2 separate regions of the Homo sapiens genome follow, and region 1 is linked to region 2. The links come from fine-mapping of genetic effects on gene expression. A gene starts in region 2. The other region holds a variant in brackets. All regions are shown on one strand. Distances are from middle to middle.

Region 1 (5,379 bases), 27 kb after region 2:
CATGTGTGGTAATTTTCATGAATTGTACTTACATTAATGCATATTTCCTGCTCAGTTTTAAAGAGAATCTTGATATTATCAAGGATTAGTCCAGTATTGCTACATTGAGACATCATGTAAGGAAAGGCAGTGTTGTGATTAGAAGTTGGAATGTAATCACCTTAGTGAGGAATATTTCTGTAGGTTAGAATAGTTACTGTTCCTAGAACCTCCCAGGTGTGTTTCTGCCTCTGGAATTTTGCAGTTGTTCTTCTGCATAGAAAGTGCTTCCTTTGACTTTTCCCGTGACTGGCTCTTTTTTATTGTTCTAACACCATCTAAAATGGTGTCTACTGAGACAGGACTTTCCTGACCACCCTATCTCCATTGTTTGCTCCGCCTTCCTCCTTTTCAGCCCCTACCCCACCCTGTCATCACAGGGTTGTCTTCAGTTTTTATAATGTCACTATATGTGAAATAACATACTAGTTTACATGTTTTTCTCTCTTTCCCCAAGTAGAATGATAGCTCCTAAGCAGGTATCTTTTTGTTCATTTATTCCTCATATCTGCACTATACCTGACATGTAGGTGCTGATAAATATTTACTAAATAAAGACACATGCTTCATGGCCAGGCGAGGTGGCTCACACCTGTAATCCCAGCACTTTGGGAGGCCAAGGCGGGAGGATCACTTGAGGTTAGGAGTTCAAGAACAGCCTGACCAACATGGTAAAACCCTGTCTCTACCAAAAATACAAAAATTAGCTAGGCAGGTGGCACATGCCTGTAATCCCAGCTACTCTGGAGGCTGAGGCAGGATAATCGCTTGAACCCAGGAGGTGGAGGGTGCAGTGAGCCGAGATGGCGCCACTGTACTCCAGACTGGGCGACAGAATGAGACTCCATCTCAAAAAAAAATGAAAGACAGAAAATAAAAAGACATGTTTGAAAAGAGAAAAAAGAATAGTAGAGGGGATCACAACTCTTTTCTACAGCTAAATTGTGAGAAGCACATTGCAGAATATTCCCCTTTCTTCTGTAACTTATCTACATAGGCCTTTTGCTGGAATACAGAGAAGCAGTGATGGGTGAATTTCTCAAAAATACAATTACTTCTTAGAGTCTCAAAATACAGTTCCTAGTCAGGTGCTGTGGCTCACCCCTGTAATCCCAGCACTTTGGGAGGCCAAGGCAGGCAGATCACCTGAGGTCAGGAGTTTGAGACCAGCCTGGCCAACATGGTGAAACCCCATTTCTACTAAAAATACAAAAATTAGCTGGGCATGGTGGTGGGCACCTGTAATCCCTGCTACTCGGGAGGCTGAGGCAGGAGAATCGCTTGAACCCGGGAGGCAGAGGTTGCAATGAGCTGAGATCATGCCACTGTACTCTAGCCTGGGTCTTAGAATGAGACTCTGTCTAAAAAAAATATAGATAGATAGATAGATAGATATACACAAAATATATATACACACATATACATGTAGTTCATATATTTTATATGTATAAAATTTTATATTTTATATATGATATGTAAATATATGTATATAGTTCCTCAGCAGCTTGTCAGTTTCTTTAAGTAGTTAAGTGATTGGAACTAAATAGAAGGCTAAAAATAGGAATTTCCTGGAATTTTACTCTCTAATATGAATACAGGAGAAGCAGCCCATGCTTTCTTCGGTAGAACACTGCTTGCAGAGGCCCCACCCTTAGTGTAGGCCTTCAGGGCTCTAGTCAAAAGATTAAAATGCCTGTATTTAGGACTTGCCCGTACTTCTGTAACGCATAATTGATGAGAAATTGGGAGGGTCTTGTACATTCACATTTATACCTCCCAAGCCTCTTTCAAATTTTGTTTTTTTGAGACAGTGTCTTGCTCTTTGGCCCAGGCTGGAGTGCAATGGCACGATCACAGCTCACTGCAACCTCCACCTCTTGGGTTCAAACGATTCTTCTGCCTCAGCCTCCTGAGTAGCTGCGATTGCAGATGCCTGTCACCACACCAGCTAATTTTTGTATTTTTAGTATAAGTGAGGTTTCACCATGTTGGCCAGACTGGTCTCGAACTCTTGACCTCAGGTGATCCTCCCACTTCACCTTCCCAAAGTGCTTGGGATTACAGGCATGAGCCACCATGCCAGACCCCAAGACTCTTTATAACTCAATGATTCTCATGGAGGGAGAAGAAATTTTCAGGTTTCTAATTTTTAAATCAAGGATGATTTTCTTGGGTCTGGTGCGGTGGCTCACGCCTGCAATCCCAACACTTTAGGAAGCTGAGACTGGAGGATCACTTGAGCCCAAGTGTTTGAGACCAGCCTGGGCAATGTAGTGAGACGCCCATGTCTACAAAAAGTAAAAAAATTAGCCAAGCATGGTGGTACACATCTGTGGTCCCAGCTACTTGAAAAACTGATGTGGGAGGATTGCTTGAGCCCTGGAGTTAGAGGCTGCAGTGAGCCATGGTCACACCACTTCACTCCAACCTGGGCAACAGAGTGGGGAGGAAAAAAAAGTGTTGCACCTTAAAATTGAGACTATACTAAATAAAAAGAGCTTCTGTTGGATTAGGACACAATACCAGTACTTTTATGATTTAAAC[C/G]AGAAAAAAAATTACTCTTTATTTTATATGTACAAAAAATGATTTGGACTAGAAGCATAATTTAATCCTTGACTGAGACATTCCATTGCTTATTCTAGAAACTTGCTTCAGACTTGGACCCTCCCTGGTCAAGTACTCTTTGGGGCATATACTTCCTATGTTGAAACAGTGACTAAGCTAGGTATAAACCAGTGGGTCTAAAGAACAGAAATGGTGTACATTGATGTACTTAATCGCTGTTTAGTTTTGACTTAATTTGAATTCAGTTAGACTTGGTAGAGCACCCCGTGGTTAAAAGTATGTAGTCCCAACTCTATGTAAGTAGTCATTGTCCTGTAAGTAGTCATTGTCCTGTAAGACTTCAATAGATGTGAACAGCAGATATAGAAATGAACTATTATGGGACATGCTTTCTCCTGCTCAGTTGCTCATTTCACATTTGTAGCACTTAAACTTTGCCATTGCAATATTTACTGTAGAAAAAGGTTCAGTAGAAGGACCTAGTACAAGGGATTTCATTGCAAAAATAATATAAGGCACCTCATTAGGTTCATATAGGTTGTTCTAGGGATACAATGCCTATGTCCAGCATCAGAACATTATGGGGTATTCTTGAAATTTGGAGTTAAAATAAGTACTGCTTAGAAGTTGCTTTCTTTGGCCAGGCACAGTGGCTCATGCCTGTAATCCCAGCACTTTGAGAGGCCGAAGTGGGCAGACATGAGGTGAGGAGTTCGAGACCAGCCTGGCCAACATAGTGAAACCCCGTCTCTACTAAAAAAATAAAATTTAGCTGGGCCTGGTGGCGCATGCCTATAATCCCAGCTACTCGGGAGGCTGAGGCAGGAGAATTACTTAAACCCAGGAGGTGGAGGTTGCAGTGAGCTGAAATTGTGCCACTGTACTCCAGCCTCTCCATCTCAAAAAAAAAAAAAAAAGTTGCTGTTTTGAATTAGCTCTACAATTTTAGAAGCTATGTAATATTCAGCATTTTATTATTTCTCTTAGAAAGTACTTTTTTCTCCACATTACCAGTCTTCTCCAGCTTACTTGAAGGAGATCCTGGAGCAGCTTCTTGAAGCCATAGTTGTAGCTACAAATCCATCAGGACGTCTCATTAGCGAACTTTTTCAGAAACTGCCTTCTAAAGTGGTAAGTGATGCAGTTAAAAACAGGTACATGTCAGTGTTTTGTTTTTAGTACTTCAAGAATTGTATTAATTACTGATAAATAAAGTAAGTTCAAAAGGAAGATGTTGGGCCGGGTGTGGTGGCTCATGCCTGTAATCCCAGCACTTTGGGAGGCCGAGGCAGGTGGATCATCTGAGGTTGGGAGTTCGAGACCATCCCGATCAACATGGAGAAACCCCATCTCTACTAAAAATACAAAAAATTAGCTGGGTGTGGTGGCGCATGCCTATAATCCCAGCTACTCGGGAGGGTGAGGTAGGAGAATTGCTTGAACCCTGGAGGCAGAGGTTGCAGTGGGTGAGCCAAGATTGCGCCATTGCACTCCAGCCTGGGCAACAAGAGCGAAACTCCGTCTCAAATTTAAAAAAAAAAAAAGAAAAGGAAGATGTTGGGCCAGGCGCAGTGGCTCACGCCTGTAATCCCAGCACTTTGGGAGGCCAAGACAGGCAGATCACCTGAGGTCAGGAGTTTGAGACCAGCCTGGCCAATGTGGTGAAAACCCATCCCTAGTAAAAGTATAAAATCTACCCTGGTGTGATGGTGTGTGCCTGTAATCCCACCTACTCGGGAGGCTGAGGCAGGAGAATTGCTTGAACCTGGGAGGTGGAAGTTACAGTGAGCTGACATCATGCCGTTGCACTCCAGCCTGGGTGACAGAGCAAGAGTCCATCTCAAAAAATAAATAAATAAAAGGAAGATGTTGGAGGCCCCCAAGAGATCCTCCTCACAGCAGCACAAAATGTATACGGTCTATCATTTTACATGATCAGAAGGTTATGATTTTATTTTTTTATTTTTACGTTTTTTGTTTTTTGATTGGTAATTATTTTTATTTGTTTCTTATTGTGGTAAAGGATATGTATCATAAAATTTATCATTTTAGCCATTTTTAAGTGTACAGTTCTGTGGCATTAAGTACATTCACATTTTTATGCAACCATCACCACTATCTGGAACTTTTTAGTCTTACAAAACCAAAACTCCATACCCATTAAACACCAAGTCCACTCCCCTCTTCTCCCAGCTTCTGGCAGCCACCATTCTGCTTTCTGTCTATGAATTTGACTATTCTAGGTACGTCATAGAAGAAGAATCATTCAATATTTGTCCTGTGACTGCTTATTTCACTTAGCATATGTTCAGGATTCATCTATATTGTAGCCTGAATCAGAATTTCATTCCTTTTTAGAACCGAATAGCATTTTGTTATTTCTATATAATACCTTTTGTTTATAAGTTTTTTGGGGTGTTTTGTTTTGTTTAGAGATAGAGTCTTGCTGTGTTGCCTAGGCTGACCTCAAACTTCTGGGCTCAAGCGATTCTCCCACCTCAGCCTCCCAAGTAGCTGGGTATACAGGCTTGTGCCACCGTGCCTTACTACATTTTGTTTACTCATTCATCTGTCAATGGACATTGGGTTGTTTCCAAGATTGGTAATTCTTCATTGATAAAATAAGCACTTTAACTAAATCTTTTTTATTTATTTATTAATTGTTGAGACGGAGTCTCGTTCTGTCACCCAGGCTGAAGTGCAATGGCGTGATCTTGGCTCACTGCAACCTCCGCCTCCCGAGTTCAAGCGATTGTCCTGCCTCAGCCTCCCAAG
Region 2 (5,379 bases):
TCGAGTCACGAAATGATTTGTTGGTGAAAAGGTGGGAGGAGGGAGAGGATCAGGAAAGATAACTAATGTCGTACTAGGCTTAATACCTGGGTGATGAAATAATCTGTACAGCAAACCCCTATGACGCAAGTTTACCCATATAACAAACCTGCACATGCACCCTTCATCTTAAAAGGTTAAAAAAAAAATGACTTGAGTCTTTTAAACCTCATTACTACTGTCAGACACTGACCTAGGCTAAGATACCTTTTTAAGTTCTTGGCAGTACAGCTTCTTTGAATTCTGTTTGCCCGACTTGGCTTTGTTCTCAGTTTTGCAAAGCCCAAACTCCTAGAGGATAAAGGGGGAAATAACACAAAATTAGAAGTAGAGCAACTGTAACCTCTAACTCCATTTTCCACAGCTGAGTAGCAGCCCTTGCAGTTGTTAAATAGGTAAGATGGAGTCTGAACTCAGTTGTCTTCCTCCCAAGAAGCTCAGCAGCCTGTGGATGTGCTTTTATTTCTGCATCAGAACTCATCTCTCAGCCAGGCACAACAGCCCACACCTGTAATACCAGAAACTTCGGGAGGCTGAGTTGGGTGGATCACTTGAGACCAGCCTTGGCAATATAGTGAAAGCCCGTGTCTGCTAAAAAAAATTAGCCAGGCGTGATGGTGTGCTTCTGTAGTCCCAGCTACTTGGAGACTGAGGTGGTAAGACTGCTTGAGCCTGGGTGGTCCAGGTTGCAGTGAGTTGTGATTGTGCCACTGCACTCAGGCCCAAGCAAAAAAACCAAAATCAAAACCCCTGATCTCTCATTCATAAAGAGACCTAATCATACCTTTTCCATAGGTTCCACATTTGATGGCTTAATATCAGGATTAGTTTCAAGTTTTCTTTTCTTTTCTAGTTCCTTCTGCCTGTCAAGTTTCTGCTGCTGTTTTAGTTCTTCAAGCTGTCAGAGCCATAAGGGAAATAGGTGAACCAGTGACTAGTGTTGTTACCTTACTCTGAAAAATATCACACATAACACACTACACCACTCAATGAAAATTCTGGCTAACATAACTTACCCTCTGTTTCCTTAGCTCAGCTTCCCTAAGAAGAGCCTCCTTAAAGGGAGCACTGTTTGGAACTCCTGGGTCTTTCCTAGGCTTCTTGTGACCCCGCTTTTTAGCCTCCTTTCTTAATTTTCGATGATGTTCTCGAACCTATTAAAATAAAGAGATTTTGTCTGCTTACAAAAATATCTTTATACTTAAGCAGAATTCAAGTGAGAAACCAATCTGGCTGCAATTTAGTTATGCCTATAAAATGTCCTAGGAAAATGGAGCTTTAATTGGAATCTTACAAAGTAATGCATATGTAAGTATAAAACAGCAAGAAATTGTAACTAGAAGGCTCTCTATGCAGAGATTAACATGCTGAACAAATTTAGAGACTTATCACCAAATCACTGCACTTTCTCACAGCTGCACTCCTGATGCCTAAGAGCTTGTGCCCATGGTCAGTCTATCCAATGCCATTTCCCAAAACCAAATCACATTAACCCAGACTTTCCCGCAAAGGAACAGGGCAAAATCAGTTTAGCAATGTGTTTGGTACAGCTCTCTCAAGCACTACACTTACCTTTTTTTGGATTTTATACCGCTTATGGCAGGTCATGCGTTTACTTGCTTTCTTTAACTCTACAAAGAAACACATCACAAATCTGTTAACCCAAATGATTAGTTCTGGGTTAACGCACTATGGAGTTATATCCTTTTCTTGTGTTATTGGCTACCAAACCTAACGTTAAGTCTAATGCGAAATGCCTAATGCAAACATACGTGCTACTTTCAAATCCCAGAGAATTAAATTCAGTAGATCCAGAATGGAGTCAAAATTCCCTGCACTTACCCTCACAATATTAGAATGGGATCATACACAACAGCGTATGAGACACAAAACGACAACCACTTCGTGTCAAACAGCACGAATCATAAGGCAGGAGAGGAACACTGAGTCTGGGAGGCGATTCTCAGCTCTCACCTGGGCCAGTCTGCACGTGGCCACGGAAAGAAAATATTGGGCCTCAAACCTGGCTCAGACGCTGCTTCCTTACGAAAATCTAGCCTAGTCTTCCCCACCCTCTGCCCGGCTTCGTTCCGCAGAATGAGCCCGCGCGGTTAACATGATCGCCGTAGGGACTTCCAACTCTCGGTTCTACCAGGAAATAGGGCCAAGGCCTACGCGTAGGCTCCCACCCCCATACCAGCAGAGACAAAGCCGTAGCCGTAGAAGAGCGTCGTGGTGGCTGCAGCAACTTCCAGACGTGGGTCCCTCCACGCCCGCCTCCCGACCCCACTTACTAGGCCTTTTCATATTGGCTGTAGAAGGAAGCACAAACACATCAACCTGCCTCCGCTGGCGCCACGTGTGAACTGAAGCCACTGACGAGCGTCACGCACTTACGCTGCCGCCGTAAAGTGCGTCACCGCCTCTCTGCGTGCGCGGGCACGCAGTGTCGCGCGGAGCAGGGATCGCTTGGCGGCCGCGGGACTGGTTTTGCGGCGGCACCGGGAGGGGTAAGGGAGGTGAGGGCGGCGGGTGCCGAAGCGACGGCAGCGGCCGCGGCCGGAGGAGCAATAGCAGCAGCCGTGGCGGCCACGGGGCGGGGCGCGGCGGTCGGTGACCGCGGCCGGGGCTGCAGGCGGCGGAGCGGCTGGGTAAGGCCGGGCCCAGGGCGGGTGGGGCCGCTCCCCCTTGGTCAGCTGCCGGGCCTTTGTGTGGGCCCGGGCGGGCGGGAGCCGCGGCGGAAGCCCCGCCCCGGCCGTGGGGACGCGCGGGTCGGGCCGGGCGCGCGGGGTTGGGCGGGGCGCGGCGGCTGGCCTCCGGATGGGCCCAGTAGCCTTGTCGCACCTGCCGGCAGGGACAAAGGCGCACTACGGGTCGGAAACTCCCCGCGCTCCTCTTTCCCGCTCGTCGCGGGGCAGCTTCAAAGCTGTCAACGTTTCCCTCAGTCCCCAATACCAGTGACAGGTCGGGAAAGTCCTTCATTTCCTCCGTTGCTCAGGGCCTCTTTTTTTTGTTGTGGTTTCTTGACGGTTCGACACAAACTCTTAGTGATTTTCTTTCCGTATTTTTTCCGGGTATTTTAATCAATGGGACTTGTATTTATAGTAGAGGCCAGATATTTCAGCTTCTCAACACCACAAAGAATCCGGGATTTTGGGAACTGTGTATATTTCTTGGTTTGGGGAAGCACAGTTTTGTTATTATAATAAGTTTTAATTTAAAGGGGAAGAAAGAGTTGCAAAAATATAGAAAAAGCCCTGAAAAATAAGTACACGGTATAGTGGATATAGAAATTCTTACAATAATTATAGAAGCGTATGTTGGGGTGAATTGTTTTAATTAACTTACTTTCCAACACAGGATTCTTGACAAATAATTTTAGGTATTATTTTTTTCTCCATTTGGCTATGTGCTTTTCCCCAAAAAGTGCAAATTGGACTCATGCACATAAAAGAGTAGCATAATTTTTGCTTTATTACTTACAGGTCGCCCATATTTGATTTTGAGCTCCAAAATGGAAGATTGGAAAATATGTTTTGAAGAGGTGTTTCAAATTAAAACAATAAAGAGTTTATGTGTGGATGAATGGAAGGGCCTTGACCGCTTTCTTTGGCTTTGGGAATGTACAAAATACCTCAAATGTTAATATCCTACCAAAATTCCCAAGATAAGTAAATTGTGGTGTATCTATATGATAGATTACTATCAAGTCATCAAACATCATGAGGAAGAATGTTGACTTGGAAGAACCTTCACTAAAACACAGGCTGTAGAATAATATATGTGGTTTGTTAACATTTTGGTAAAAAATAATAGGTAACTAAGGCATAAATACCAAAAACCGAATGACAACGTTAAGAGTGGTTTTTTTCTTGGAAGTAGGTTTATAGGTGTTTTTTTTCCTTTGAGTCCTGTTTTCCAAGATTTTGTTTTAAACATGTATTGTATTGCTAAATATTACTAGAAATATAGGAGAGGGCTAAAGTTCATAAACGGTCGAAATACACTGTTTGTCTATAGTAAGTCGATATTCTCCCAGTTGCACATTATTAAGTATTCTTAACTGTCCACTATAAATTATTGATTGTTAGACTTTTGAACTTGTAACTGTAATCAAGGCCATTTTAAAACTTGGCATTGAACTCTGGAATCTGTCTTTCCTCTTCATGGAAAGACAAAATTGCTGAAGGGATGCTTACAGGCATTTTTTTTTTTTTTTTTTTTTTTTTTTTGAGACAAGGTCTGACTTTGTTGCCCAGGCTGGAGTTCAGTAAAGTGATCATGGCTCACTGAAGCCTTGTGCTCCTAGGCTCAAGCAGTCCTCTCACCTCAGCATCCCAAGTAGCTGGGATTACTGATGTGCAGCACCACACCCAGCTAATTTTAATTTTTGTAGAGAAAAGATCAATCTATGTTATCCAGTCTGGTCTTGAACTCTCTGCCTCAAGCGGTCATCCTGCCTCAGCCTCTCCAAGTGCTGGGACTACAGATATGAGCCCCTGTGCCTGGCTGAGGACTTTTAAACTATACAAATAAACTTTTTTTTTTGAAGGTCTCAAGTGCACTTTTTTTTTGTTTTTTTTGGAGACAGTCTTACTCTGTCCCCCAGCCTGGAGTGCAGTGGCGCAATCCCAGCTCACTGCAATCTCTGCCTCTCTGGTTCAAGCAATTCTCGTGCCTCACCCTCTCGAGTGCCTGGGATTACAGGTGCATGCCACCACCTTGCCTAGATAATTTTTTGTATTTTTGATAGAGACGGGGTTTCACCGTGTTGGCCAGGCTGGTCTTGAACTCCTGACCTCAGGTGATCTGCCCACCTCAGCCTCCTAAATTGCTGGGATTACAGGCATGAGCCACTGTGCCTGGCCCTAAGTGCACTTTTAATACATTTATTAAAAGATAAACTGAGCACATAACCTATACCAAATACTATCCTGTAAGACAGGTCTACAAAAATGAATATGCTGTTCCTGTGCCTGGGGAACATGCAGAAGTGATTTCACTTTATGTTGTTTTTTTTTTTTTCTTGAGACGGTCTCGCTCTGTCACCCAGACTGGAGTGCAGTGGTATGATCTCGGCTTGCTGCAACCTCTGCCTCCTGGGTTCAAGCAATTCTCATGCTTCAGCCTCCCAAGTAACTGGGTTTACAGGCATGCACTGCCTCAGCCAGCTAATTTTTTTTTTTATTATTTTTTTGAGACAGAGTCTTGCTCTGACGTCCAGGGTGGAGTGCAGTGGTGCCATCTCGGCTCACTGCAACCTCCGCCTCCCGGGTTCAAGCGATTCTCCTGCCTCAGTCTCCCAAGTAGCTGGGATTACAGGTGCGTGCCACCAAGCCC

Evidence for each region. PIP is the estimated chance that this variant, and not a neighbour inherited with it, causes the effect.
Region 1: its variant is the best candidate, but not a certain one, in a credible set for the expression of GNL3 in whole blood (INTERVAL, PIP 0.77).

What each region holds. Positions count from the first base shown.
Region 1 is chr3:52,656,555-52,661,933 of GRCh38, reverse strand. PBRM1 (polybromo 1) reads left to right here. Exons shown (of 32, transcript NM_001405607.1): 6 at 3,619-3,735. Among named protein-coding and RNA genes, the nearest start is that of PBRM1, 27 kb to the left of the region's middle. The variant C/G (reference allele first, on the strand shown) is at 2,584.
Region 2 is chr3:52,683,060-52,688,438 of GRCh38, reverse strand. GNL3 (G protein nucleolar 3) reads right to left here and starts at 2,407. Exons shown (of 15, transcript NM_014366.5): 1 at 2,334-2,407; 2 at 1,612-1,670; 3 at 1,056-1,193; 4 at 824-937; 5 at 247-330. The coding sequence starts at 2,346. It overlaps PBRM1 (polybromo 1), which reads left to right and starts at 2,526. Exons shown (of 32, transcript NM_001405607.1): 1 at 2,526-2,690. RefSeq lists enhancers at 2,180-2,249, 2,244-2,932 and silencers at 2,570-2,719, 2,790-2,939.